Regions from separate parts of the Homo sapiens genome. Here all the other regions are reported to be linked to region 2. The links are microRNA targets in miRTarBase. Many come from high-throughput screens and were not tested one by one. Region 2 holds a microRNA gene; each other region holds the end of a gene's coding sequence.
What was found. Region 2 holds the annotated microRNA hsa-miR-548ax (AGAAGUAAUUGCGGUUUUGCCA, at 2,098-2,119, shown strand). A microRNA usually pairs through its seed, bases 2 to 8, with sites in the 3' UTR of a target mRNA and lowers its output. Matches are read on the target gene's strand: a 7mer-m8 pairs with bases 2 to 8, a 7mer-A1 pairs with bases 2 to 7 and ends in A, and an 8mer does both.

Region 1 (4,059 bases), not on the chromosome of region 2:
CTGATATCCAAACTATAAAAATATATTAAAATGATACATTTTTAATATTACTATAAGGAAAAAACAAATTAGCTAGAAATAATAATACTAATGACTCACCCACTGGTGTATTTGCCATTTCATTGGGACTTGCCAGTACAAAACAGTTTCTTAACGGCAAAAAATGGTAAACAAAAAGGATATGATTATTAGGTTCAAATTATTCATTCTAGACTGTGGAACAATATGGTTATTTTATCTGGTGAAACTAATAATGTTAACCAATCTTTTTTCATCAATTTCAAGTCTACTTTTTTTTTCTTCCCAGGAAGTTGGCCTTGTACTTGCAGCTATATTGGCACTACTACTGGCTTTCTATGCTTTCTTTTATCTCAGACTCACCACGGATGTTGACCCTGATCTGGACCAAGATGAAGATTAGCTAAGCAACAATCAATGCATGAAAGAGAAATAACTTTACGAAAGCACCTTTTGGGACCAAAACTTTCAATACTGAAACTGTAACATCTTTAATTCTTTCTGCTAATATTTTCAGTTTGCAGACATATGATTTTTGATAGTTGCATAGGATGTCAGGAAAAGAACCTTACCTAGCAATGCAGTATAGTATGTGCTACTGGATACTTTTATATATCTTTCTGCTTTGACAGCCACCCTATACATGGTACATTTAGATGAAATGGGAACCAGATCCTAAATTTTTCAAATGTCATTGCCAATTTATGTGTATAATTCCATCACTTCCTGATGAGTAAGTCTATTTTTGTTCTATATACATCATAAGTTAGTATATATTCTTATTTACAGAAACATGCTCAAATCACATTCAGAAAGAACAAAAAGTCATGGGAAATTTTTTATTTTACAACAAAGCCCTGCTTTCTTTCTGGACGTATTTTACATCATTAGAGAGACTATCTGCACATACATCTACCATAATCTTTTTCCTTCTTTGCCAACTGTTCAGTGCACATGTGCTGCATCAGAAATGGCACCTGGATGACAGAAGCTCAAAGAGTCACATATGTCTCTAAAATAGAGTTCTTTTCCTCTTGGGCTGTCTGAACTGGTGTAAATAGAAGCTCAGTTGATCTTGGTTTTAATTAACTTATTACTCTATTAATATAACCTTGGAATTCTATTCTAATTATGTTGTTCTGGCTGCTTGTAGTATCAGTTCGCCCCTCTTGTTAGGGAGATATGTAACAATCTGTCATTTAATTGAGCAGTCTTTTTCACATAACAGTAATAGCAAAAATCCTACCTACTCAGAATCATCTTCTTAGGTTGTCTCCTAAATCTGAACAATACAGTTGTTTTATAAAATTACATTTTGTCTCTTGAGATTTAATCAATTAGAACTCTTTAGGGAGAAAATAAATAATAGAAGAAAATATATGCCTCATATTTCATATGTAATTATCTGTTGATATAATTTTTCAATGTATTTTGTATTTGTGGGAGCATAATGACCTGTACATTCAATATTTTTACTGGTAATTCAATTTTTAAATATGTTTTTACAATGCTTGAACACATAAACCTTAGAAAACTGGAAAATACGTGTCCACAGAAAGAGTTATTAGCTACTACCTTATGTAAAGATGCATAGAAAATGAAATTGTTGGAAACATGTGCACAAAGTGTTTTATATTATATACATTGTATTTATGAAGAATAAATAAAATATTAAGATTGTTTTCCTGCTAGCCAAGAGAAGAAATCCTTGGGAAATATCTAAGGAGTATATGGGGCTTTATAAGCACTGTTTCTAAAAGATATTCTCTGGTACTTTTGCAAAAAGTCGACTGTGACTGTGTAGCATTATGTTCTGTAGAATTTTTTTCAAGTAGCATAATTTATTTCATTGGTGTGAAAACAGCCAAAGGTTCCAATATCCTCACAAATCATTTATGCCAAACATCTGAGGGCAAAATTTAGCCGGTGTTATTTACTAGATTCTTCCCTTTGAACTCACAGACTCAAGAGACAGACCAAGAGTTCTTATATACTCACCACAGCGGACCAATCCAAGTGGCATTTTTAGGAAAGGTTGCAGCATTTAATGCCATGTGGTATGTCTGTTCGTCAAGTGGGTGGCAAGGGAATATCCAAGCTGGCATTTTGGATATGATGGGCCTTTTACTTTCCTGAGTGACATGCCACATGTCAAGAAATACTGCTCCCCACCCCCCCACTCCCATCACATTTACGTGAACAATTTTCATTTAGTTATTTCCCGTTCCATATGGTGTTAAAACAGTCGTATTAAATAAAGATTATTTCTAGTTTTCAGTGGTAATTTAAATGAGAGGATATGTAATAATTGCTTATTAGATACTTATCCAAATGAAATATAACAGAGTTTACAGTACTTAAAATGGCTGGTTATGGTCTTGGAAATGTTTGAAAATTCATTATCCTGAAAAAAACTTTACCATTCTGTTTTACCCTTGAGGTATTTTTTGGGGAAAAATGTTTTTGATAACTATTAATCTAAATATAGTATAATTATAGGCAAATTTCACTGCCTAGTTTTATTGATATCCTGAGTCTACAGCTAGTCCATTCGTATGACTGATTGATTTATGATAGCTCCAGAGAACCATAAATTTCAAAGGCTAAACTCTCTGATTTTAGTAAATAGTAGGTAAAGTGACACAATATATGTTTACACAACACTGTTTTCATGAAATGCAAACTTTGCAAAACTCACATTAACTGGGAAGCAGCCAACCCTCTGTAGAGAAATCCCAGATTGGGAGTCTGGTTTGAATCTTTGAAGACAGAAAGGTGATATCCGGCCTGCTGTTTTAAAGGGACCACACTTTTGAATACCTACTGGTGTTTGGCAGAAATCTGAGACTGGCACCAGACACAAATTTTAGACATGGGTATCTTCCCTCCAGTAATTCACTGCTCAGAGTAATTTAGAAGACAAAAACAGAAAAAATTGTAATGATTTTTTAAGTGTTAGAATATGTTTGTTAACATACTCTGCAAAATAAATTTCAACTAATGCAATAGACTTAAAATATAGCCTATGGAATACTGTGATTGAAGTTTGAAGGCTTGCTGGTTCTTATTTTGCATGCAAGTTTAGACAGGGTAAAGAATGTATAAATTTATTTGAGATGAGATACAGTATTGTAAAAATATAACCTCATCTAGAATTGCTTTTAAAACAAGCAAAAGCCTATTTTAGTACAAATGTAGGGTGGGTAGTTGTTTTAAGGTAGCAAAATACTTCAAGATTTTCTATCTTTTTAATTTTTCATGAAGACAGAAGAAATACTTTCACCCCAACCAATGACTGTAAGATCTTGAGAGTATGTTCTTACTCATTTCTGTAATTGCAGTAGTGTAGTCATCTGCATATAAATTTAATAAATGCATGTTAAAATTTAAGTTGATGCCTTTTAGTCCTCTCAGAGTCTGTCACAGTTTCTTTGTGTAAATGATAAAAAAGTTTGAATTTAATCAATAAAACTTAAAAATCACAATATCAATCAACTCGGCATTTACCATTTATGGTCCTTGGTTGTACTGAGATATATACGTGTTTCATCCTGATTCTCTTTAAATCAAGACAACTAGCATTAAGGTCGCTATAAAATAGAAACATTGCTCTTTTCTAGGGAATCAAATATGCTATTTTTATCTTAGAATTTATTAAAAACTATACTCAATGTTTGAATTCAACTTAGCATGCATTTTCACTCCAAATGAAAATAGAACTCAATTTTCATTATAATGTTTATGTGACTACTAAAACACTGTATTTTCCAGGTTCTAAAATTATATACTCAATGATAATTCAGTAGAGCAAATTGTGCTATACATCAGCGTCAGAAATATACTTCTAGAAATTAAACCCAGCCTATTTTAATGTATTTCATCCATAACATAAAGTTGTTGAGCCAGAGACTACCTAAGATAATTTTGTATTCTCTCCTCACCAACAATTAGACTTCTTTACACTTACCTGGGGCTTCTCTGGGAGATTCCTACCACTTCTCCCTTAGCAGCACTGCCTTCTTTTATTAGAATTGCTCCAAT
Region 2 (4,070 bases):
GTGTGTGTAAAGAGATATTTTCTTTGAATTGAGCAAAACACACATCTCCCTTTTCTTCATTAGGGCACAAGATTTTTTCCTATTCCTTTAACTATTCTGTTCTGATACCATAAAAGCCATTCACAATAGGTTGTAGGTGGCTGTAATTTATAATCATTTCAGTAGTAAAATTCATCATCCCTGGGATTATTCCCTCTCTTGTCACACGTTAATTCCTGGCTCCAGATTGTCTTTGCTGTGACTTCATCTGTAAAGATTTGCTTCCCTTTTCAATGTCCGCCTTTTGCTTTCTGGAGATATAACCTTTGTTTCTCAAGATCTGAATGCATGGAATATGAAACTTTCCCCAACTCCACCAGCACAAGTGACCTCTTTCTCTCAACCCTGCAGTTGTTTATCCATTAAAATTACCAATTAAATTTCCTTTTATACATGTCTTGTCTCCCACTAATTGGTAGCCGCTGAGGTCTGAGACAGCACAGCCCATATTCTTTAACTTGACCCTGAGGAGATGCCGGTCTAGCTTTTATTTAGGTTAGGGTTGGCATCTGAGGAACTGTGTTCCTATTGCATGCTGCAGTCATGAGCTAACAGAACGCTTAAATCAAAAGCTGTCAACCTAACATGAAGAGGCATCCACAGAGCTGTCTCTGAGAAGCTTTATTCTTTGACTCACATCTCCAATGTGAGTAATGTGGTTGAAACCTAGCAAAGTCAAAATTTACTTGAAGTGATATGGTGGATCCGGTGCTGTAGATGATGATTGTAGACCTGAAAAAAAGAAGTTACGCGAATAACATCTGCTTTTCTGTGTGATATTTTCCCCCCCAGCTGTTTAGAGAATTAGAAATTGCTCTGTCAAGGGTTTGTTTACAAAAGCCTGGCCAATTTCAAAATGAAGCTGCCTTTGAGTTGTCCCTGTTTCATCTCACTGTTTGGAAAATAAATCTGAACCATTAAGATGTAAATACATCAAGTTAGAAGCCAAAGGCAGTGAAAACCAAGTAAAAGCAAGAAATGTACCACGATTTAAGTATTCTCCTGGGAGGAAAAATATACATGGTAATAATTTTTGTATCTTATAATTTTATTATTAAATTAAGGGGAGAGAAATTTGAAATCAGCATAATATCTATTTTGTGTAGTATTTAACACTGTGATGTATATTGACAATTGATAATGAATCAAAATATGTGCGGGTAACTGTATGTTCATTAAATTAGAGTTTGGTAATGAGATAGAAAGAGAGAATGAGAGGGGTACAGGTGTAAGCAGCAGTTCTCAAAGTGTAATCCCGGAACCATCAGCAGCTGCATCACCCTGAAACATTAGAAATGCAAATTCTCAGGCCCTGTTGAAGACCTACTGAATCAGAAACTCTGGGGATGGGGCCCAGTAATCTGTGTTTTAACAAGCCCTCCAGAGGATTCTGATGCATACTCCAGTTTAAGAAGCACTTCTATGTAGATGGATGGATGGTTGGATGGCTGGCAAGATATGTGGGTACAATGACACATACATATGTAAGTACAAGTATAGGTATGGGTATAAATACAAATATGAATACAAATACAGATATAAATACAGATATTTTGAGAGAGAGATATATAGATAGACATAGATATAGATATAGATATAGATATAGAAATGTGGAGTTACCATCACAGGACTTTTTTAGAGGAGCAAATTATTTCCTTTTACTTATTATATGATTGAATAAAAGCTGTTCTTTTCTCTAGGCAATGGGTCTATCATTTATAAACTGAGAAAATCTACTGGTGGTCCATTTGTTGAACCATTTTCCATTAGGTTCACTTAAAGTGTTTGTTCCATCAAGTCTGCCACCTGGGTGGTTTCCTTCACTGCAAAACTGGTTTGCTCTTCCCTCCCCTCTGTCTTCTTGGCAGCTGCTGTCTGCCCTGGTTCTTATCCATTGGTAGATCTGATTGCTTTGGGGACTGGATCAACAGTTGAATCCTCACAGGATTTTGAAGCCAACAATATCCTACATATTGGTCCATTTTTCAGAATTTCTTCATTTGTGTTTTATCCTTCCATTTTTCTTTCTAAGCATATATAATTTATTTAGATTGGTGCAGAAGTAATTGCGGTTTTGCCATGGAAAGTAATGGCAAAAACCGTAATTACTTTTGTACCAACCTAATAATTTCAGCCAACTATTCATATGCAGCACTGTTTACAATGGGGATGAATAAGTAACAGCTAAATATCTGATAAAAGGGGATGTTTTAAATATAGTAGATTGCAAAATAATATGATACTTTTTGAGAAGAAAATTTCAATATGCAAAAAATATAGGGGATAATATTCATTAAGACATAATCAATGATTGTTGGATTATGGATGATTTTAATTTTACTCATTTTGCTTATTTTTATATTTATGATTACATTAGTTGTAAGCTCAAATTGCTGTTATAAGCAAAGATAATGCAGATTTATATGTATATATATAAAACAGTAAAATAAATTGATTGTATTTTTTATCTTCTTCCTTTCCCCACTATGCTATGAACTTAAAGTCCAGCAATTATGCCAGCTGTATCTATTCATCATTTTTCACATTAAAAGCAATATTGCTGGATAGTAGAATTAAATGACAACTCTGCTTTTGGAAATGACAGGAAGTCTGCTGTAAATAGATAATTGATGTAGACGTTAAAGCCAAATAGAATTTCCATTTATGGAGAAGGGAATATTTAAGGGTATGTGGCTATAAGAAAATATTTCCTTTTGCTTTTAACACAAGATGTAACATGACTTGTCATGCTCAGGATGTGTTTTGAAGTGGATAATGGCACTTTCCCTAATATTTGGAGGCACCGGGCTTGATCCTCTTTTGAAGGCCTTCCTTTGAAGATAAACATAGACATTGGTTTTAGCTTAATTCTCCATCCCTAAAATTCCTTCCTGCTCTAAAATTCTATAATTCCATAACAACAGTGTATAAGCAATAATTATGAAATGGAAAAATGAGCCATTCTACTTGCCATCCTTCATGTAAAGCTGTACTATGGAATCCTGCTCTAAGGTGGGGCCGGTGTCATTTCTCCAAGCAGTATGATGCCCTGGAAGAAAGCAATGTACAGTGGCCTGTGATTCTGGACCTTGGATCACTTTGATGCCCTTGGCTTATAATAAAAGCAAAATCCATTTAAACCACCTTAAATAATTAGGAATTTTAGAGGCTCATGTCACCAAAATCCATAAGTATGTAGGGTTTCATCCAGTGACTTGACCTTTTTCCTGCAGTGCTCTTCATTTTATGTCCCTCTAAGTGTCACCTCTAGGCTGATAGCAACAGAACCTGTGGCAGTTTGGGGATAAATATGACGATGTCTAAGCTAGTGTTTCTCAACTGTGGGTGACCACCCCAGGAGACATCTGGCAAAGTCGGGAAACATTTTTGGTTGTCACAAGTGGAGAGGTGCTACTGGCATCAAGTGAGTAAAAGCCAGGGATGCTTCTAAACATCTTCGGTGTGCAGGACAGCCCCACCAGAGAGAATGATCCAACCCAAAATGTCAATAGTGCTGAGTAACTCTGGCATAGAAGAAGAAAGGTTTCCTCTGCCTATAACTCACTTACATTCTAGGAAACATTTCCAAAGGCTTCCAGCCACATTTCCCTCACATGCTGGTGCCTATAGTACAAAAGGCTTTAGGCCTGGGTTCTGAGATCAATCGTGGGTGGGGAACAGTATTACCAAGATCAGCTCACTGAGCCCCAAAATGCATGTGGCATGTCCATGCTATACACTGTCAACCAGAACAATAAATACCCGTCATATAATAGTACTATTTTGTTATTAGCAAGAGAGGGGAATTCAGGCATCATTACTATTCAGCCCTAAAAAAGAAGAAATTCCTGTTATTTGCAACAACATGGATGAATCTGGAGGACACTGTGTTCAATGAAATAAGCCAGGCACAGAAAGCAAAGACAAATGCTGCACTTTCTCACTTACATGTGGAATCTAAAAAAGTTGAACTCATAGATGCAGAGACTAAAATGGTGCTTTCCAGAACCTGGGGGTGGGGCTGAGGGTTG
Region 3 (4,070 bases), not on the chromosome of region 2:
TGTTAAGATGTGAGCAGATATTAATGGCTTTTCCACATTCTTCATAGGTGTACATTTTTTTTCAAGTATAAATGCTTTCCTATGCGATAAGGTGTGAGTATTGGTTAAATATTTTGCCACATTCTTCATAGTTTTCTCTAGGATAAATTAGCTTATACTCAAGTGTGACAACCATTTAAAGGCTTTGTGACATGACTCACATCTAGGGCTTCTTGACACTATGATTTCTTTTATGTTTAGAAAAGTTTAAGGTGTTCTCAAGAGCACTGTCATGTCTTTTAGGTTTGTAGAGCTTCTCTCCAGTATGATTTGATAACTTATTAAAAACTTTGCCACATTCGACCGGGCTCAATGGCTCATGCTTGTAATCCCAGCACTTTGGGGCACTTTGGGAGGCCAAGGCGGGTGGATCACTTGAGGTCAGGAGTTCAAAACCAGCCTGGTCAAAATGGTGAAACCCCGTCTCTACTAAAAATACAAAAATTAGCTGGGCGTGGTGGCAGGCGCCTGCAATCCCAGCTGCTTGGGAGGTTGAGGCCAGAGAATCGCTTGAACCCAGGAGGCGGAGGTTGCAATGAACTGAGATTGCACCATTGCACTCCAATTTGGGCGACAGAGTGAGACTCCATTTCAAAAAAAAAAAAAAAACTTTGCCACATTCTTCACATTTGTAGAATTTCTCTACAACATAAATTATCTTATGTGTAATAAGGGTTGAAATGTTTTTAAAGCTTTTGTCACATTCTTCATATTTATAAAATTTATCTTCTGTATGAATTCTCTTATATTTAGTATGAGTTGAAGACCAGTTAAAGACTTTGTTACATTCTTCACATTTGTCGGGTTTCTCTTCAGTATGAATTATCTTAATGTGTGGTAAGATGTGAGAAATGGTTACAGTGTTTGCCACATTCTTCATATTTGTAGGGCTAGTTTCCATTATGAATTATCTTATGTTCAGTAAGGTTTGAGGACGTTAAAAGCTTTGCAACATTCTTCACGTTTGTAGGGTTTCTCTTCAGTATAAATTGTTTATTAAGAATTGAAGAATTAGGCTGGGCACGGTGGCTCACGCCTTTAATCCCAGCACTTTGGGAGGCCGAGGCGGGCAGATCACCAGAGGTCGGGAGTTCGAGACCAGCTTGACCAACATGGAGAAACCCCGTCTCTACTAAAAATACAAAATTAGGTGGGCGTGGTGGCACATGCCTATAGTCCCTGCTACTCGGGAGGCTGAGGCAGGAGAATCGCTTGAAAACCCAGGAGGCGGAGGTTGCAGTGAGCCGAGATTGTGCCACTGCACTCCAGAGCCTGGGCAACTAGGGCGAAACTCTGTTTCAAAAAAAAAAAAAAAAAAATTGAAGAATGCTTATGGCATTATTCACATTTGTAGGGTTTCTCTCCCATTGAATTATGTTGTTTAGCAAGAGTTGAGGACTGGCTAAAAGCATTGCCACTTTCTTCACATTTGTAGGGTTTTTCTCCAGTACGAATTTTCTTATGTCTAATAAAGTTTAACTGATTAAAAGCATTGCCACATTCTTCACATTTCTAGAGTTTGTCTTCAGTATCAACTATTTTCTGTTGAGTAAGGTCTGAAAACCAGTTAAAAGCTTTGCCACAGTTTTCATATTTGTAGGGTTTCTCTTCAGTATGAATTATCTTATGTTCAGTAAGGTTTGAGGACCAGTTAAAAGTTTTGCCACACTCTTCACATGAGGCGGGTTTCTCTCTAATTTATCTTATATTCAGTAAGATCTGAGAACCCGTTAGAAGCTTTGCCACATTCTTCACATTTGTAAAGTATCTCTCCAGTATGAATTATCTTATGTTCAGTAAGTTTTGAGAAGCAGTTAAAAGTTTTGCCAAATTCTTTAAATTTGTAGTGTTCCTCTCCAAGATAAATTATTTTATGTTGAGTAAAGTTTGAGGACTGGTTAAAAGCTTTGCCCATTCTTCATATTTGCAGTGTTTGTCTCTACTATGAATTATCTTATGTTCAGTAAGATTTGAGGACTGATTAAAAGCTTTGCCACATTCCTCACATTTGAAGGGTTTATCTTCAGTATGAATTATCTTACATTCAGTAAGATTTGAGGACCAGTTAAAAGCTTTGCCATATTATTCACATTTGTGGAGTTTATCTTCTTTAGGAATTCTCTCATTTTGAGTAACAGCTGAGCAATGGTTAAAAGCTTTGTCACCTTTATTATATTTGTAGGGTTTTCCTCCAGTATCAATTATTTTATGTGTATTTAAGGTGTGAGGACTGGTTAAAGGCTTTGCCACATTCTTTACATTTGTGGGGTTTCTCTCCAGCATGAATTGTTTTCTGCCTATTAAGGCTTGAGGACTGGTTAAAAGCTTTGCCACATTCTTCACATATGGAGGGTCTGTCTCTAGTATAAATTATCTTATGTGTATTAAGGTTTGTAAAATGGTTGAAAGCTTTGACACATTCTTCACATTTTTAGGGCTTCTCCCCAGTATGAATTATCTTATGTTTAGTAAGGGCTGAAAGATGGTTAAAAGCTTTGCCACATTCTTCACATTTGTAGGTTTTCCCTCCAGTATGAATTGTTTTATGTTGAGTAAGGTGTGAGGACTGGTTAAAGGCTTTGCCACATTCTTCACATTTGTAGGGTTTCTCTCCAGAATGAATTATCTTATGTTTAGTAAGGTTTGAGGACTAAATGCTTTACCACACTCTTCACATTTGTAGGGTTTCTTTCCAGTATGAATTATCCTATGTTTAGTAAGGCGTGAGAAATGGCTAAAAGCTTTGCCACGTTCTTCACATTTGTAGGGTTTCTCTCCAGTATGAATTGATTTATGTTTAGTAAGGTGTGAGGATTGCTTAAAAGCTTTGCCACATTCTTCACATTTGTACGGTTTCTCCCCAGTATGAATTATCTTATGTTTCATAAGGGTCGAGAAATTGTTAAAACCTTTGCCACATTCTTCACATTTGTACGGTTTCTCCCCAGTATGAATTATCTTATGTTTCATAAGGGTTGAGGAATTGTTAAAAGCTTTGCCACATTCTTCACATTTGTAGGGTTTCTTTCCAGTATAATTATCTCATGTTTTCTAAGGGCTGAGAAATGCTTAAAAGCTTTGCCACATTCTTCACATTTGTAGGGTTTCTCTACAGTATGAATTACCTTATGTTCCATAAGTTTTGAGACCACTTAAAAGCTTTACCACATTCTTCACATTTGTATGGTTTCTCCCCAGTATGAATTATCTTATGTTTCCTAAGGGCTGAGAAATTGCTAAAAGCTTTGCCACATTCTTCACATTTGTACGATTTCTCCCTAGTATGAATTAGCTTATGTTTCTTAAGGGTTGAGGAATTGTTAAAAGCTTTTCCACATTCTCCACATTTGTAGGGCTTCTCCCCAGTATGAACTGCTTTATGTCTAGTAAGGTGTGAGGACTGCTTAAAAGCTTTGCCACATTCTTCACATTTGTATGGTTTCTTCCCAGTATAAATTATCTTATGTTTCCTAAGGGTTGAGGAATTGTTAAAAGCTTTGCCACATTCTTCACATTTGTAGGGTTTCTTTCCAGTATGAATTATCTCATGTTTTCTAAGGGCTGAGAAATGTTTAAAAGCTTTGCCACATTCTTCACATTTGCAGGGTTTCTCTCCATATGAATTACCTTATGTAAAGTAAGTTTTGAGGACCACTGAAAAGCTTTACCACATTCTTCACATTTGTAGGATTTCTCTCCAGTATGAATTATCTCATGTTTTCTAAGGGTTGAGGAATTGTTAAAAGCTTTGCCACATTCTTCACATTTATAGGGTTTCTTTCCAGTATGAATTATCTTATGTTTTCTAAGGGCTGAGAAATGCTTAAAAGCTTTGCCACATTCTTCACATTTGCAGGGTTTCTCTGCAGTATGAATTACCTTATGTACAGTAAGTTTTGAGGACCACTTAAAAGCTTTACCACATTCTTCACATTTGTAGGGTTTCTCTCCAGTATGAATTATCTCATGTTTTCTAAGAGTTGAGGACTGGCTAAAAGCTTTGCCACATTCTTCACATTTGTAGGGTTTCT
Region 4 (4,068 bases), not on the chromosome of region 2:
ATTTGGAAATACATCAATTATAAAACTATTATGCTTCAGATGCCTTTCCTTAGCCAACATATTCTTTGGTGGAAAATCAGGAAAACTTTGTACCTTGGAGAATGTGACCCAGTGATAAATTCAAATTGTGTTGCCTTTCAGATTTTGAACTACCATAATTAACAGCTCAACTCCATGATGTATACATTTCTTTAAAAACTAGAATAGCAACTGCTCTCACAGTCTGGCATAATTATTCCCAAGGGGGAAATATGTAATAAGAAGTTTTAAAATATTCTCGGGAACTCTTTTCTAGATCACTACTAGACAGCTTTTGAGTCACAACAGGTATGTTACCCTGTTACTAATAATACAGAGCAGCACAGTGCAGTCATCCCTCACCACCAAGGTTTTTATTCCAAAACAGTTATTTGGCTAGACGTGAACCGTTAAGATACGGGATCAATGGAGTTACAATAAAGACAATGAAAGTGACAATTTATTAATACACAGTAAGTTCTAGAAGGCATCTTTCAAAACAAAACTTGATTTCTTTTGTATTTACATTTTTTGTTTCAAGTCTTAGCAAAATGCTAAAAGGCCTGGCCTAGTCACAATTACTGACATCCTTCTGGGACACAATTTTCTGGGCCTGTGTTGAATGAGGATAAATTATCTTTTCTCTAAAATGCCACATGAACCCTCTCTATATTCCCACATGAAGAGGAATGGAAGGTAATTATTTGGTCTTTTCTTCTGTTTAGGGGAATGAACTGAACCACTCATTTTTTTAAAATCACACTTAAAAGACACATGGGCAAAAAAGTTCCCCAAAACTACTGTCTTACCGAATTTGAGAAGGGAGGTAATGTATGAAGCTTAACAGCTGGCTTCAAAAGACACCTTTCCAAAGAAATTGTACTACCTCTATTAACGTGTAAACCACCAACCAAAAAAAAATAATAAGTTACTCCATCAAACACGTTATTATCCATAAAAAAGACTTCAACATTGTACTGGAAGATCTATTTAAGCATAAATAGTACTAAGCACCAATTACTAATCTGAAGGCCTCCTCACAGGTCCAAGGGCAATGAGCAACCTCAAGAGGCAGGTGACTGCACAAGCAGTAAGCTATGGATTAAAAATTAAAAGGATTTCACATTCTTTCCAAAGTGTACTGCCCGGTGTCTGGCACACGCATGTTACAATATGACAATCTGCTCTATTTGTGAGCACCTGAGTGTATTACAGGGGATTACACATGCATATGATAGAATCTGGCTCCCGGTACAGTCAAAGGAGAACAGCATCAGCCACCAAATGTGCTGATCTTACACTGAAAAGGGTTGACTGAAAACATTTCAAGGGTAATGTAAACACAAGAATAAAGCTGTGGGTCTATTACTTAGTGATGTGGTTTTATATGCTACATACGTAGACCTCTCTTTATACAATGAATATGGACAGTGCTGCAATAAAAACTGATGACACGTCAAATTGTTCACCTGAAGAAAAACCCTATTATAGTTCAGAAAATAATGCAACCAATTTTAATTTAATCTAGATACAGGTACTTTATTTACAAATATTTAGATTAATAGCATTTTGTTACATCAAATGAAGAGTACAGCAGTCTGAATAAATCCTTCAGTCACAAAAACAATAAAACCCACTGTAACTAACTTTGGGAGTCAGGGTATTGCACCTCAACAAGCCGCAGTCTTTAGTTTGTGATTGCTACCTTATATCCCAATGGGTGGTTTGTTTGTTTTGTTTTTGTAAATATACACACACACCAGCAGGTCATGGTCCCTGGGTGAGTCCCTTGTGATGCAACAGTGTAAGCAAAATGGATCACTGTAAGTCTTTAACAGAATATACCAATCTACTCCAGAAATCTTATTTTTTAAAAAGTTAAACAAAGACAAAAATAAAAATGAATCCACAAATTAACCAAAGCCTACTTTCTGCACATTCCAGTTTTGGCTTTTATTTAACATTGACTATACAATACTCTGGTACTACCACATGTTTACAACCCAGAAAGATGTACTTTTATGTTAGTGTCTGTAAAGAGGGATTTAAAATGTGTATTTTAAACACAGCAGTTGAGCTGAGTGCATTTTCTATAGTACGCTGAGGTGTTACCTATTCTATTTCAAATAAATTCTCAATTCCCAGCCACTGAATCATAAATGCAATAAAAAAAATCAACAGAAATGAAGAACTTAATAAAACATGTTGTCCAAAAAAATAAGATTGTTTCTCTTGCTATACAGTATTAATTCAGTGGCCAAACCACCTGGTGCAAAGTAATAACTTACTTTGTATCAGCACAAGCGCTGAAACACCTTTAGAAACACTTTCCCTTTTACAAAACAATTTATGCCAACATGACATAAAACAGCCCCTCACACTGTGAACACAGGGATATCTTAAGTTATTTCACTGTAGGGTTAAAAATGCACAATTTAAAATCCCTTAACAGCAGACCTGTGGTTCTGACTGTCCAGTTCAGAATCTGACCATTCCAAGAAGATAAAGGTATAAAAGCTTAAAATGTGCAATAGTAAACCCAGCCTTTTTTCTTTTTCTATACAGTAAGGCAAGAATGCAGCCTGTAATGCAAAAACGTTTACAAAAAGAGAAAAGCAGGTTAGCACATTGTCGATTGCACAAGAACAGTTAAGAAAATCAGCAGGTAAGCAACAGTGCAAAGATGGAACAGAATCTGCTAGTGTTAATCCTCTGATGCTAGGAGCTCTTTCCAGCATAATGTCCCCAAACACTGCCAGCACCAAGGGGTGGAGCCAGTACTACTTGTGAACTGCAGTTGTGTCTATTTCTTTGTGTGAAATGGAAGGGAGTAACATGGTCACATATAGGTCATACTGTACAAACTGGTATTTTATACTGTTCCAATGCCAGTAATCAATTTATTTTCTTCATTAAAATAATATACACAGAATGTATTGTTAGTTCGATTCCTTCAAATTTTATACATATTTACTTTCTGTTAAAGAGAAAAGGATAAAATGGTATAAAAAAAGATAAAGCTATTAATTAAGCACGAGAGAGAAGATAAATGGATATTTTCCCTGTGTGAGGCTAAGACAGAAGCAAATCTCGTTAAGAAAAATGCCACCCACACAACAGGAAATTTATCCAAAACAAAACAAAAGCAGTTATAGAACCCCTTCTCTACCATCAGAAGTAATTTCACAGCAATAAACTTATTGGTTACAACAGACATACTTGAACAGTTAAGGATGGGAAGAAAGGCTTAAGATATCACCAAATTAAACCGTACAGTGAGACAAAGCCTTGCCAAAGGGAGGGTAAAAATCATGAAGTCCAGCATCAGTGCTCGGTTTAAATCATATATTGGTGACATACTTATCACGAGGACAAGGGGGAAAAAAAGTCTAGATTTACCATGCAGGAGAGATTTATTACTCTACTTGCCTTTGATAACCTGATTACATCTAGTTGTTTAGCAGTTTAGTATTGTGTTAAACTGTTTTTACAACAGAGTTTTTTCTTTTTTTTTAATTAAACCCAGTAAGATGTACAGAAGACAATGAGGCAGTAAAAAGTACTGCTTCCAACAGACAGAGGTGAAAGGTCAAATGAGGGGCCACAGCAAAGAGGTCACTAGCAGCCACAGCCTTCTCTCTGGGGTTGGGGTTCACTGGTTAGCCGGCCTCCCTGCGGGGCTGAAGGTTTGTGTTGTACACCAGACTCAGCAGCATTCAGATCCAAGCTTCCATCCTGAATGTTCTGATAGATTTTCTTGGCAGCCTCAAGGAAGGCATCTTCTACATTCTCTCCCCTAAGAGGCAATTGATAACTTTATTGGAGAACCACAGTTTTCTACAAAAGACAAGACACTGACCTTTTGCTAATCTTTAGTTAACTGCCATGATGTCTCCAACTTAACCACTGTCATCTAATAAGAGATTACCAGAACACTGAGCTAAGAGAACATGGAAAACTATTTTCCTTTTTTTTTTTTTTTTTTTTTTGAGACAGAGACTCACTCTGTCACCAGGCTGGAGTGCAGTGGCCCGATCTCAGCTCACTGCA
Region 5 (4,070 bases), not on the chromosome of region 2:
AAAACTGTCCTTTTAAATGAAATGCAATATAAAATACTAATACACTTTTCTTCCAAAAGTGGAAATGCTTAAGTACCCTATACTAGAAAAAAAAAATTAGGCTGTTTATTCAATTCCACAATGTATAATACAGCAGTTTTATGTCCCTTATTGCTGACAGCTTCGATAAAAACTATTAACAAGTAGTTCCAAGCACAGAAACAGATGTACAGTATGAGCACGATTTTTCTTTATATTAATTTTTAATGTCCTATCATGTGGATTAAATGCATAAAGGGCAAATAAAAATGAGGAATCTTCCCTAAGTAATCAAAACATATGCCTTATTGAGAAGAAAATTTTAGAAGCTGATTAAAATCCTTCAGCACTAGCTTTGCAATTAATTCTGGAGAAATACCTTGACACATCTTATAGTATTTGAGTTTCCTTATAACTTTACCTTCCTTCAAACAGAAGCTACCTATGTGCAAATAAACTGGTTGTTCTGTCAGGACTTCTAAAAGATATGGATAACCGGCAAATATATACTTTATTTCACCTACTTTAATAGCTGCTTTACAATTCGCTATGTACAAATGATTTTATATCTTAACTGGTAATATATTAAATATGTTATAAAATTAGTTCAAGAAGCATAAAACACCCTAACTCTCATGAACACAGAAATTCAAGCAAAAGAATATGCTTAAACAAAAACTAAAGCACACAGCAAACGTAAATTGTTGGTCAAATCTTTTCATAGTGTTATAAGTTACATTTGTGAAATTTAGGGTAGTTGAAGAGCTTCCTCAATAACAGCAAGAGGTTTTACATTTATTACCTTTATAGAGTAGGTACACTTTTCTCATAAAGTTTAGCCTACAGAAACTATCGCCACCCAAATTAAACATCACCCAAGCTAATATTCTTTCTTCCTTCTAAAGATGAGCTAGCAAAACTTTTTATAGGTTGTCCCTTTAATGCAGCTTTTTAGAATAAACATTTTTACATTTTTTCTTAAAAGAATTATTTTTTGAAGTCTGAGGAAAAATCCGCTTGCCTAGTGAATTTGGCACACAAAGAGTAACAACAAATCAAACTTTAAGCTAGCAACCAACACACAAAATAAGCATGCAAAGAATAGAATAAGTTTTATATGGATAAGGTATTTTAGCCAACTCCACTTATAAGGTATTACAAAATCTCTATATTGTTTTGAAGCTATGTGTTGCAGTTTAAAGTTACTTTTAACAATAATACGTATATTTACAATTGACTTAAAAAACTATTTTCAAGGAAGTTAGAAACCTATGGCACACCAACGCATCTTCTGGAAAATGAAGACGATACAATGTCATGTGGCAAGTTTTCAATATATGAAGGACTAGAAAAAATATTTCTTTACTCAATTCTGAATTACAAGTTCATAATAATTTAATGGTGTTTAAGCACTGCTTAAAATTTTCCAATAACATATTTCAAGGATTAAGCAATTTATTTTAGAAGTTTTGGGTTAAACAAATTATCATTTTCTAGGTAACATAAAGCAGAAAGGTTCCAAGTGAATTAGAAATATAAATGAAATTATAGGTGTTTGAGTTTGTCTTCCAAAAAGCTGAGCTGTGACACAAATAATTCAAAATTAAAATAAAACTATATCATAAATATCTGATTTTTCCTTCTCCAGATCTAAATAGATTGTATTGGGAGAATATGTCATTTTAAATATTTGTTTCTAAAAATTAGCCGGGAGTGGTGGTGGGTGCCTGTAGTCCCAGCTACTCGGGAGGCTGAGGCAGGAGAATGGCTTGAACCCAGGAGGCAGAGCTTGCAGTGAGCCGAGATTGCACCACTGAACTCCAGCCTGGGAGACAGCGAGACTCTGTCTCAAAAAAAAAAAAAAAAAAAAAAAAAAAAAAATTTGTTTCTACATGTCATTTTAATATTTGTTCCTCCTTGAGAAGATTCCAAGACTCAACGAATTAAATTAGTCTTAATATAGCAAAATTTAAATGGAAAATAGAAAACACACATTTAGGTTATACTCAATTTAGTAAATAAATTACATTTGGGGAAGTACAAAATTCTTTTTGGATATGTACTATTAAGCAAAATATGAAAATAACTGGTTAAATGACAACCTAGTGATTCTTTCTACACCATTAGATTATCTACCTTCTATGCTGGAAATAGAATATAACCTTAACCCTAGCTAATTTATTTTAAAATAAATATAGCTCTCTGAAGTAATTTCATACATAGTATCTTATAAGAGAACATGAAAAACATTTATTATCCCATAAAATCCATGGGGTAATAATGTCAATTAATGATAGTTTCAGGAAACTCCCTTTAAAAACAGATCTAAGAATTTTACCTAATATATTTTGAGCCAAGAATTAACAAATATGAAATTTGCCATTAGAGAATGACAGACTTTTCTGTGCAAAAAAAAAGTGCAGAAGATGTTGTCCCTCCTGAAACTATGGAATTCCTTTATCTTCTAAAACTTATCTAAAAATCTTTTAGTAGCAGGTAACTAAACTGTCCTATATGCACCTATCATGTACTATCAGTTGACTGTAAATTCCTGATTTTGATATTAAGTAGTAAATGAAAATGGTCCATTCGTGCAAATTTTGGTAAGACAACATTTAAACATACAGAAGTCCAAAATAACCTTCAAGGTGTTTAACATTTTACAACTTAAAGGAAAACAAGTCCATTATATAAATTTTAGTAAGACTCATAACTACATGTAAAAACTGTACAGGAGGATTATGGATTGTATAGAAACTGATACACAACAGTGGTATCAGTTTTTCTCAAGAACGTTAATATTTTCACACCACTATTAACAACACAAACAAAAGTTCAGAAATTATCACATTTTATTTTTGAAAAGTTGCTGCTTAAAAAAAAATCTAACTATAACCACATTTAAACTGAAAAACAAATTACAACTGCTGCTTCTGTTTAGCAGCAGCACATAACAACACATTCTTCTTCCCCACTGTGCTCATGGGGTATGCTATAACCTCAGTAAAATTCCTCCTAGGGTACACATTAAAAAGAAGAGAACTGGTGGAAATTCATTCCACAATCTGAACAAAGTAAAAGTAAATTTGGTGTATGTTAATGAGTACACCATATCAACTTAGAAAAATTGTGTTAATGAGAAAAGGGGAGATTCAACTCCTTGAGTAGCTCTATATACTTAAAATATAAAGCCACCATTGTATCTAAAATTGAGTCTGAAATATGGATAACAAAATTGACCACAGCTATTTTCCAACACATATTGCAGCTTTTAAAAAGTACACAATTGTTAAGTTTGCATTAGAAATATAAGCAGATTACCTACTAGTTGAAACCATATAGTATTGTTACTAAGCTGATTTTTTTAAAAAAGTACAAAGAAACATACATTTTCATTCATTTGGAAAATGTAAAAATTTAAGTACTAATATATAATCTCTTCACTTTCTCTGATCTACAAATGGATAGAATGCCTAGTTATCGTCATGCAGATAAATTCTTCAGAATTCAATTACCAAAGCAAGCAACAAACAAAAAAAACCTTGTCAGTAATACACAGATGAATCTCTTTAACAGTTTCTATTCTTTAGCAGTCTTTGATGATTTCAGAATTTGCAGCTTTAGCTCTTTTATCATCATCTCTAACTTCTGTCTTGCTTCCCGTTCCTGTCTGAGTTCATCTTGGAGTTCTTGCCTATCGGCCTCAGCATGGTCCAATCTCTGCCTCAGTTCTGCCAACTATGTGATTTAAAAGGCGCTATCAATTTTAATTGTTTTGTTTTTCCATTTAATCCTCATATCATAGAAAATATCTATTTTCAAATTACTTTTTACAAAACGAACTATTTCATGTATACTAAATCCATTAAGCATCTAATACTATTAATCTGACATCTGACAGGACACTAAATTTAAGAAAAAGCAAAGGAACAAGAGGAAGGAACACATCCAGCATGTTCATGTTCATTATGCCCTATACTTTACTATACCGCTCATCACAGCCTGCTCATGTTAGTTATTTGTTCATGTTCCTTAAATTGTGAGATTCTATT
Region 6 (4,070 bases), not on the chromosome of region 2:
TGTTCATGAGAAGGCCTTGAAAAGTTACTCTAGAGGAAAAATGTCTAAAGAAAAAAAAAATTCAAAAAGTTTACATTAATTATTCAGTGTTGTGAGTAAATAAAAATGTGTGCTCTTTACTGTTTTTCATTTTTAAAGAATATTATTATGGAAGCACGATTTATTTAAATAGGTACATTGAGACTTTTTTTTTTTTAATGTTCTGATACATTAGGATGAAGTTAAATCTTAAATCTTATTAGTTGAATTGTTGTAAGGACAGTGATGTCTGGTAACAAGATGTGACTTTTTGGTAGCACTGTTGTGGTTCATTCTTTTCAAATCTATTTTTGTTTAAAAACAATACAAGTTTTAGAAAACAAAGCATTAAAAAAAAAGCCTATCAGTATTATGGGCAATATGTAAATAAATAAATGTAATATTTCATCCTTTATTTTTCAGGTAAAAGGTCATGCTGTTACAGGTGTAGTTTGTGTGCATAAATAATACTTCCGAATTAAATTATTTAATATTTGACTGATTTCAATAACTGTGAAAAATAAAAAAGGTGTTGTATTGCTTGTGAGAACTTGAACTGTTTACTAGTTAATTGAAGAAAAAGTGTAACACTAAGGTGAACTTGCTTCCCTTTTCACTAATTTTGCTAAACTTTGTAATGCACATTCTTAGCATATAACTGAACACAGTTGAAAAATTGTGCCTGATTATAATGTATGTATAATGGTAGGTGTTTGTGTGTGATTCATTTTTAAAGAAATATTTTTCTCAAGCTCCTATTACTATTTGTGGTTGTATTATTTCACTAATCATTAGTTAAGACTGTGCTAGTCTTCCCTGGGAAACTAAGAAGAGAGCTTTTTTATATACAGTATATTAGAATTTTCCTAGTAGCTGAATTTCTGTATTAGGTCTAAATATTACTGTATGTTATATAAAGCAGGTATGTCAAGTGTATAGCCGTAGTCTATAATTCAGGAATGCTTTATAACCATCAGAAGCCATTATTTGCACTACATATATGATAAGTATAGACAGCAATAAAATGTTAAGATCATTTTTAAGAAGTCCCATCATTATTCTTGAAAGTCTCTTTCTTGAACCATCTACCTAATATTATTGCTAGTTGTAACCAATTTAAGAAGTCATTATTTGTGCTGTGGTTAGGAGAGAAAATAAAACAAAATGGGTATGGGTTGGCATGCCTGTCAAATTTGAGATGTAGTTTATTTGATACAGCAAAATTTTAGAAATAACGTTTTGAATTTGCAACATAGGCCACATTTACTGATGAGAACAGATACTAAACTTGATCTTAACTACACCTGATCTTAGCCAAAAGGCCGAGAAGTAATGTGCAGGCCACATTTAAATAAGTAATATAACCATAGTGTTTTGAAGGCGGAGCTAAAGTTTTACATTGAACGAAGTGAAACTTTGTTACTGCCTTTTAAATTTTAAATGTAAACTTGTTTCATAAGAAAACATAGTATTTTAAATGACCATTTTAGAAAATGGCTTGCAAAACTTAGTGGTAGCTCATGAACTAATACTGCTAAGAGAAAGGCTTTTTATGTAACACTGGGATACTTCTCAATTGGCAAAGTGCTAACAAAGAAGAAGACAGCTGTATTCTTCCCTAAAAGAATAAAGGATGAAAAGGACTAATGAATAAGGATGAAATTATATCCTGATAACTTAAAACATGCTTTTAAAAAGACATGGGCAATGTATGTTTTTAGGTCTGCCGATTAAGTTTTTGATATTAATCGAAAAATTCATTAGTCAAATATGGTTTTCACTCAAAGCAAAATAATTGTATTTGTTGGGGAATGAGGCATCATCACCACTTGGTGGCAATATTACCAAAAATTTAGATTAAATTTTTAGGAATGAATAAAGCTAGGTAGGTAAGACTAAACAACTAAAATTAGAAACAGTAAATGTCACATTGAAAAGTCATTTTCATGTCTAACTTTAAGTTCTACTTTTAAAAAGGAGCATACATTACAGGAGCACAATCTGGCATAATCTCCTATCTATCTCACAACTTTGTAGCACGAAATAAATAAAGAATCCTGCTGATCAATAGAAGGAAAAGTTTAAGCCGATTTAAAACTTAAGAATATAAATTCCCTACACAGGTCTGTTGAGAATGTTCTTCCTGTAAGTTTCTGAAAGAAAGAGTCTTTCTTTCTGGAAACGAAGCAGTGAGTCTTAATAGTTATGAAGTTAGTTATAAGTGTAAGTGAAGAAGATCAATATAAGAATTTGTGCTCATATTGTTTTACTGCTCCAATTTCTACTAATCTCTCCATTGTTAGATACCAAAATTTTTATGTATACTTCTTAATGGTATATTTTCTAAAGATATACTATAACTTGAGGACAGAAAAAATTGTTTACCTATGTTAGAAAAATAATCTGAAAATCAACCTGCATATAATAAACTAAGGACTCAGGTATTCACTTATTCTGAATCTTTCATTTGAAAGAATATTTCATAATTATTAAGGAATATAACACTTTGACCAAAGTAACTTCCTGTTTATTGAGGCTTTACTCACCACTACTTACTAAACAGTTATCAAAAGACTAAAATATTTGGCATTGAAACCTTGTAAAACAAAGGAAATGACATATAATATCATATCCTAGTATTTTTTTCTTATAGGAGGGATCTGCACTCTTCTAAACATAAGGGCGGAATATCTGGCAGGTATTCAAAATTAAAGCACAGTTGTGTACCACTGTCATTATTTAATAGAGTTGTCATCGCACGGGATACCTTCTAAGACCTCCAGTGGATGCCTGAAACTTCAGATGATACTAAACCCCATATATATTGTGTTTTCATATATATATATCTATGATAAAGTTTAATTTATAAATTAGGCACAGTAAGAGATTAACAACAATAAAATAGAACAACTATAGCAGTATACTGTAATAAAAGTTAGTGAATGTGGTCTTGCTGTCTGAAAATATCTCACTGTATTGTACTCACCTATTTTTGGATCATGGTTGACAGTAGAAAGAAAACCATGGGAAAGGGGGTGGAGGAGAGTACTGTAATTATTTAATATTTAATTTGAGGCTGATTAGAAATTACCTATAATGAGTGCTATTTGCCTGAGTTTAGTCCATTTCAATTTATCACCTCCCAGGATTAGAAATATTGCGAGAAAAGTCAAAGGTAATTTTTAAAAAATAGCCTTTAATAAAAAATACAAAAATACTGTATCTTTGAAACATGATCTGTATATTCAGCAAGTCCTAAGCTTCCTAATGTAAAATAATCTGTTTAATATTGTATTTTTATTTGCAAGTACATTAAAACAAATCTTATTTTACTTGACAGTAATATTTATGATGCTGACATCCTCATAGGGCTTATCTGTTTTGGGATTGACTTTGACGTTGGAGATCCTCTGTACAACTTCCATTCCTTTAGTCACTCGTCCAAATACTGTATGCTTATTATCAAGCCAAGGCTGTGTTGGAGGACAAATGGAAAATCTTGGTAAACCCCAATTTCTTTAAATTATATCCTCTGGTTGAGCAAATTAAAGAGAATTTAAGTTTACGCTCCCCTTTAGCATATATTTAAAAAGAAGTACAATAATTTCTCAGCAATAAAAATGTAGCAGCTTTTAAAAGTTATTTCCAGTGTGTTAAAAAAAATAGAAGCATAGTATAATGTTTAATTAAATATCTGCATCTTTCAGACCAAAGGGAACTGGAAGATCTTCCCTAAAGGTAAGTTACTTCACATGGCTTACAGAATTGTGGCTAAGGCTTTAAAAGGTCTCTGGAGGACTCTTACCTGAACAGTTTATTCAGAGGCAGTTTGAAATAGTTTATGCAGCACATACTTTGGCATTAGACAGGTGGGAGTTCAAATGCTAGCTTGGCTACTTGACCTTTTGGCAAGTTAATCATGTCTCACTGTTTCTTCATCTATTATTGAAAACTGGGGATACTGATAGTAGAAGTACTGTGAATACTACATAAAACTATGTGCCTGGCAGATGGTAGTTACATTTTTCCCTTCTTCATCACTTAGTGCTTAA
Region 7 (4,070 bases), not on the chromosome of region 2:
CTTTACTCATCCACAGAAAGCATTTGTATGTCAACAAGAACTTTGCTCCTTGCCTGTTTTCACTTCAGCTTACTCCTCCCTGAAAATAGAGTTGTTTGATACAATTGGAAAAATCATCCGGTTGGTGTGAGACATTCACAGCAACAAAACTATGTTGGTAGAACAAAGCTTCCTGACTGCCAAGTGTCCAGAGAAAAAGAGGAATAAAAGAACCCAGCATTCACACATAGGACCACTTAAAAATAGATTCTCCATTCTCCTCTTTTCTTACAAATACACACAAATCTTTGACCACAGTGTATCTGATTTATACACAGAATTAACTTCTACATTAACAATAATTAACAGTTGCGTGCTTATTACATATGAGGTACTCTTCTAAGAGCATTAACTCATTAATTTTCACAACCCTATGAGACAGATCCAATTATCCCAATTTTACATTTGAAAAACCTGAGGCACAGAGAGATGAAGTAACTTGTCCAAGGACCCACAGCTAGGTGGCAGAGCCAAGATAGAAAAACCCAAGCAGGCCAGGTTGTGGTGGCTCATGCCTGTAATCCCAGCACTTTGGGAGGCTGAGGCAGGAGGATTGCTTGAGGCCAGGAGTTCAAGACGAACCTGGTCAACATAGCTCACTTTATATTTACTTTTTATAATTAAATAAATAAATAAATAAAGGAAGACACCAAGCAGCCTGGCTCCAGGGCCCATGCTCTAACTACTATACTATACTGCTTCTGCAACAAAAAAGAGAATGATCTTTTCTAATTCCTACAAAGCTTTATCCTCCTATCAAGTATGCCAATTTACATTCTTTAAGCAGACACATGGACCCAGGTTCATCTTAATGTAAAACCAAGGATCAACTTTAGTCTCATCCAAAACACATCAGCTCTCTTAAACACACCAAACGTTACCCCCTTTAAAACATAAAATACACTGAGATCGCTGTTCAAGCATCATACTTTCTAACAACAGGAAATGTTTGCAGAATTAAGGCCCTGGACACCTTCTTCAGTTTAAGCAGTCAGCACTTGATGGATCTTTTGTAGCTGTAACAGAATTTAAGTAGCTACTTTCTGAAAGAAAAAGTCAGTTTAACAAGACCCTAATTTGAGAATGTTTAATTCTATAAATACATTATTATGGCGACAGAGCATAAAGTACAAAGTTCCCTATGCTTAAGGAACCACTAATAGATTTGCCGAAATATCAAGGCACGAGGCACTGGCCTATTCAGCTAAAACAGAAGTTCGTATAATTGGGAGTTAAGGCCAAGACACCATTCATATGCCTCTTATGCTCGAAGGCTATGACCTTTAAACCTTTGTCTTTCTTCAATCTCTCCCATCTTTTAAATACCCTATATACTCGTAAGTTGTTAGAAACCAGTACCATCTTTTAAAGTCCTGGCAACTGTACCGTATTTTAATAAACACCATTCCCTAATTGATTTGCTTCTGAAATAGATTACTGAATACCTTTCAAACATTGAACATGAAGAGACAAAAAACTCTCTTAATGGCAGTGATTTTAGTAAAATCGATGGATGTTTTGGCTATCATCACCTAAGTGTCTACCATGACCAAACACTGATGTCACCATTTAAGTAACAAAACAAATCAGGAAGTTTTGCTAAATGAGAACTAAATTTGCCTAGCCCTCCTTCCTTATCTGGTTTGATGCAAACAATTTCCCTCTCAGCAATATATTTACTTTCTAGATGTAAGAGAAAAACTGAAAATTTACATCCTGACATCCACTGTGATGCAGAGGTGGACCTGACAATTTGGACAAGTCAGTCTCTTTCATCTTCCTATGTCAGTTCGAATGGGCTTTTAAGGTAAACTACTATCTAAACTTTTTTTTTTTCAATTACAAAGCTAAAAGATGACCCGTATTAATAGCTTAACAGGAAACAAAGTTTTGCTGAAAAACATTTTTGTGGATAAGCGGGGCTTCAAAAGTTGGTTAAATTACTTAGTATTAGACACCCACATATTGGGTGACAAATTGGTCTAAACTGACCTTAGAAAAGGCAGTTGTAGTGGCAGGTTTCTAGAACCTGACAGGTCGCCGATATTAGTATCTAATAGCAGTCCTCTGATCTAGGAGGAAAAATTAAACGTGTCTCTCTTGATACTTAGTGGAGTCAGTAAACAATGTCCTCAGTCTGCGAATGACTGATACTAAGAACCACACCTTCAATTTTCTAGCTCAGGCCCTGGTTTCCCTCCTCCCACTTCCCTCCCAACCCAGGCAGGTTATTACAGACAAGCAGGCAGTTACGTTGCTTCAAAATATTTAATACGTGTTAGACACGTAGAAGTTACATTTTTATACAAAAATCAATACAACGAAGGAGAAAATACTGTACAAAAACCTTATCAGCTCCCCCAACCTTTATACAACAAAGACTGGAGTCACCATATCTACAAAACCATAAGGTCTTTCCACTTCGGGCTTCTGTCTGTAAACTCTCATTAAACACTTTTTAAAAGCACTGTGTAGTACTTCTGACCTAGAGCTTTTAAAAATATATCTTTTCTCTATAAACTCCATTATTTCCAAGCTTGAACTCTTCTGTGAAGTTCGTCAAGCTTTTTCTCCCCTGCGGGGAAGCAAAGGACCGTTAATACGCCCCTTTCCTAGAGTAATCACAGGATATAAACGTTTCTTCATTGGGAGAGAAAGGTGGGGAGGGACAGAAGGAATCCAAGTCTGTGCTCTTGGCTAAATCCCTCTCGTCTTAGGAAATCCTGTGCGGAAACGCCACTCCTGGCCCTGAAGCGGGTCTAGCTTTCCGGTGAGGGGTAGGTGTAAAGTCCCTCCCTCCCCGGAGAACGAATGGGGAACTCCCCGGCCCAAACCTTTTAGCCGCTTCCTTCTCCACGCAGCCGGCAGAGGAAAGTCCCTGTCTGCCCCCAATCTCTTAAACCCTGGGGAAGGAGTGGTGCATTCCAGAAGAGCAAAATAGTCTTAATGCCACAAGACAAACTTACATACACAGACATACACAAACACAAAAGTTAACGATCGTCCTCTTCCAATGAGCCTCAAGCTCCCAGGTCTCCAGATAAGCCAGATGCGCCCGGGGGCAGTTTGCGATGCCCAGAGGCAACCAGTCTGCCCAACGCGCTCAGCGCCCGCGGTCTCTGGGCGTCCTCGCAGCCGGGAAGGGCCTGGCCCTCACTTCGGGGACGCCCGCTGCTCCACCTCCTCCCCGCAGGGGGGCCAAGGGCTCAGAAGGCCACGATGGCTGTGCTCCAGGGGTTCATGTCTCTCAGCACCGGCTTATCGCAGCAGATCTGCCCGGGCTCGGCGGCTTCCGGACCGCTCTCCTCTCCCTCCTCTTCCTCTCTGCCGCCCCCGGGGCTTTTCCGTAGGAGTCCCGAGAAACTGGAACCGAAGATGCTGATGAGGTTAGCCACGTTCCCGGTCTCCATCTCCTCCGCGTCGTCGTCCTCTCCTCCACTCGGCGGCTGCTCTAAGTTCCGGCGGGGCTTCTTGAGCGGGGTCGAGCCGGGCGCCGGGCAGCCCGCTGGGCCGCCGCCCACCCCCGCCGCGCAGCGCTTCCTGGGGCACACCGCGGGCGGCGCGGGGGGCTCGTCCTCCGCTGGTTGCGGCGCGCAGCAGCAGGCAGCGCGGGGGGTCGCGGCCGGTGTACCCGGCGGGTCCTCCCCGCCTAGGGGGCAGCCGCAGGGGCGGCGCGCGGCACGAGATACCTCGGGGAAGACGCCCCAGCCTCCGGCGGTACCCTCGGCTTCTCTGGCCGCCGCCTGGCGCGGCCCCTCCACGCGGCTCCAGGCAGCTTCCGTCGCGTCCGCCTCTCCGCCCTGAAAAACGTCCCCGACTCCAGTCACCGTGGCCACCGGCACCTCGTCCCCTACCCGCGGCGCGTCTGAGACGGAGGAGCGCTCCGGCTGCGGCTCGGTCTCCGGCCAAGAGGCACGAGCGGCGGGCGGGGGCGGCTCTCCCCAGCCGGCGGGTGGCCCGGCCGCCGGCTCCCCGGGCTGCTGCTGCGGTGGCGGCGCCGGGGTCCCAGCGGGACCGGCCAGGTAGAGGCC

Region 1: miRTarBase lists TRIQK as a target of hsa-miR-548ax. Seed matches in the 3' UTR shown: 7mer-A1 at 3,245-3,251.
Region 3: miRTarBase lists ZNF99 as a target of hsa-miR-548ax. The part of its 3' UTR that is shown has no 7-base or 8-base seed match.
Region 4: the mRNA of RAB14 is a reported target of hsa-miR-548ax. Seed matches in the 3' UTR shown: 7mer-m8 at 3,193-3,199.
Region 5: the mRNA of SKIL is a reported target of hsa-miR-548ax. Seed matches in the 3' UTR shown: 8mer at 2,222-2,229.
Region 6: miRTarBase lists PPWD1 as a target of hsa-miR-548ax. The part of its 3' UTR that is shown has no 7-base or 8-base seed match.
Region 7: miRTarBase lists IER5 as a target of hsa-miR-548ax. Seed matches in the 3' UTR shown: 8mer at 470-477.

What each region holds. Positions count from the first base shown.
Region 1 is chr8:92,882,984-92,887,042 of GRCh38, reverse strand. It overlaps TRIQK (triple QxxK/R motif containing), which reads left to right. Exons shown (of 5, transcript NM_001171797.2): 5 at 308-3,509. The coding sequence ends at 421. Among named protein-coding and RNA genes, the nearest start is that of TRIQK, 81 kb to the left of the region's middle.
Region 2 is chrX:11,316,705-11,320,774 of GRCh38, reverse strand. It overlaps MIR548AX (microRNA 548ax), which reads left to right and starts at 2,089; the gene lies at 2,089-2,161. All of the region lies in intron 1 of ARHGAP6 (Rho GTPase activating protein 6), which reads left to right.
Region 3 is chr19:22,753,735-22,757,804 of GRCh38, forward strand. It overlaps ZNF99 (zinc finger protein 99), which reads right to left. Exons shown (of 4, transcript NM_001080409.3): 4 at 1-4,070. The coding sequence ends at 3,580. Among named protein-coding and RNA genes, the nearest start is that of ZNF99, 28 kb to the right of the region's middle.
Region 4 is chr9:121,177,760-121,181,827 of GRCh38, forward strand. It overlaps RAB14 (RAB14, member RAS oncogene family), which reads right to left. Exons shown (of 8, transcript NM_016322.4): 8 at 374-3,814. The coding sequence ends at 3,637. Among named protein-coding and RNA genes, the nearest start is that of RAB14, 22 kb to the right of the region's middle.
Region 5 is chr3:170,391,945-170,396,014 of GRCh38, reverse strand. It overlaps SKIL (SKI like proto-oncogene), which reads right to left. Exons shown (of 7, transcript NM_005414.5): 7 at 1-3,756. The coding sequence ends at 3,598. Among named protein-coding and RNA genes, the nearest start is that of CLDN11, 25 kb to the left of the region's middle.
Region 6 is chr5:65,586,674-65,590,743 of GRCh38, reverse strand. It overlaps PPWD1 (peptidylprolyl isomerase domain and WD repeat containing 1), which reads right to left. Exons shown (of 11, transcript NM_015342.4): 11 at 3,195-3,491. The coding sequence ends at 3,348. TRIM23 (tripartite motif containing 23) reads left to right here. Exons shown (of 11, transcript NM_001656.4): 11 at 1-1,054. Among named protein-coding and RNA genes, the nearest start is that of PPWD1, 25 kb to the right of the region's middle.
Region 7 is chr1:181,089,062-181,093,131 of GRCh38, reverse strand. It overlaps IER5 (immediate early response 5), which reads right to left. Exons shown (of 1, transcript NM_016545.5): 1 at 232-4,070. The coding sequence ends at 3,246. Among named protein-coding and RNA genes, the nearest start is that of IER5, 2.4 kb to the right of the region's middle. RefSeq lists silencers at 2,625-2,919, 3,494-3,713, 3,914-4,070 and an enhancer at 2,934-3,103.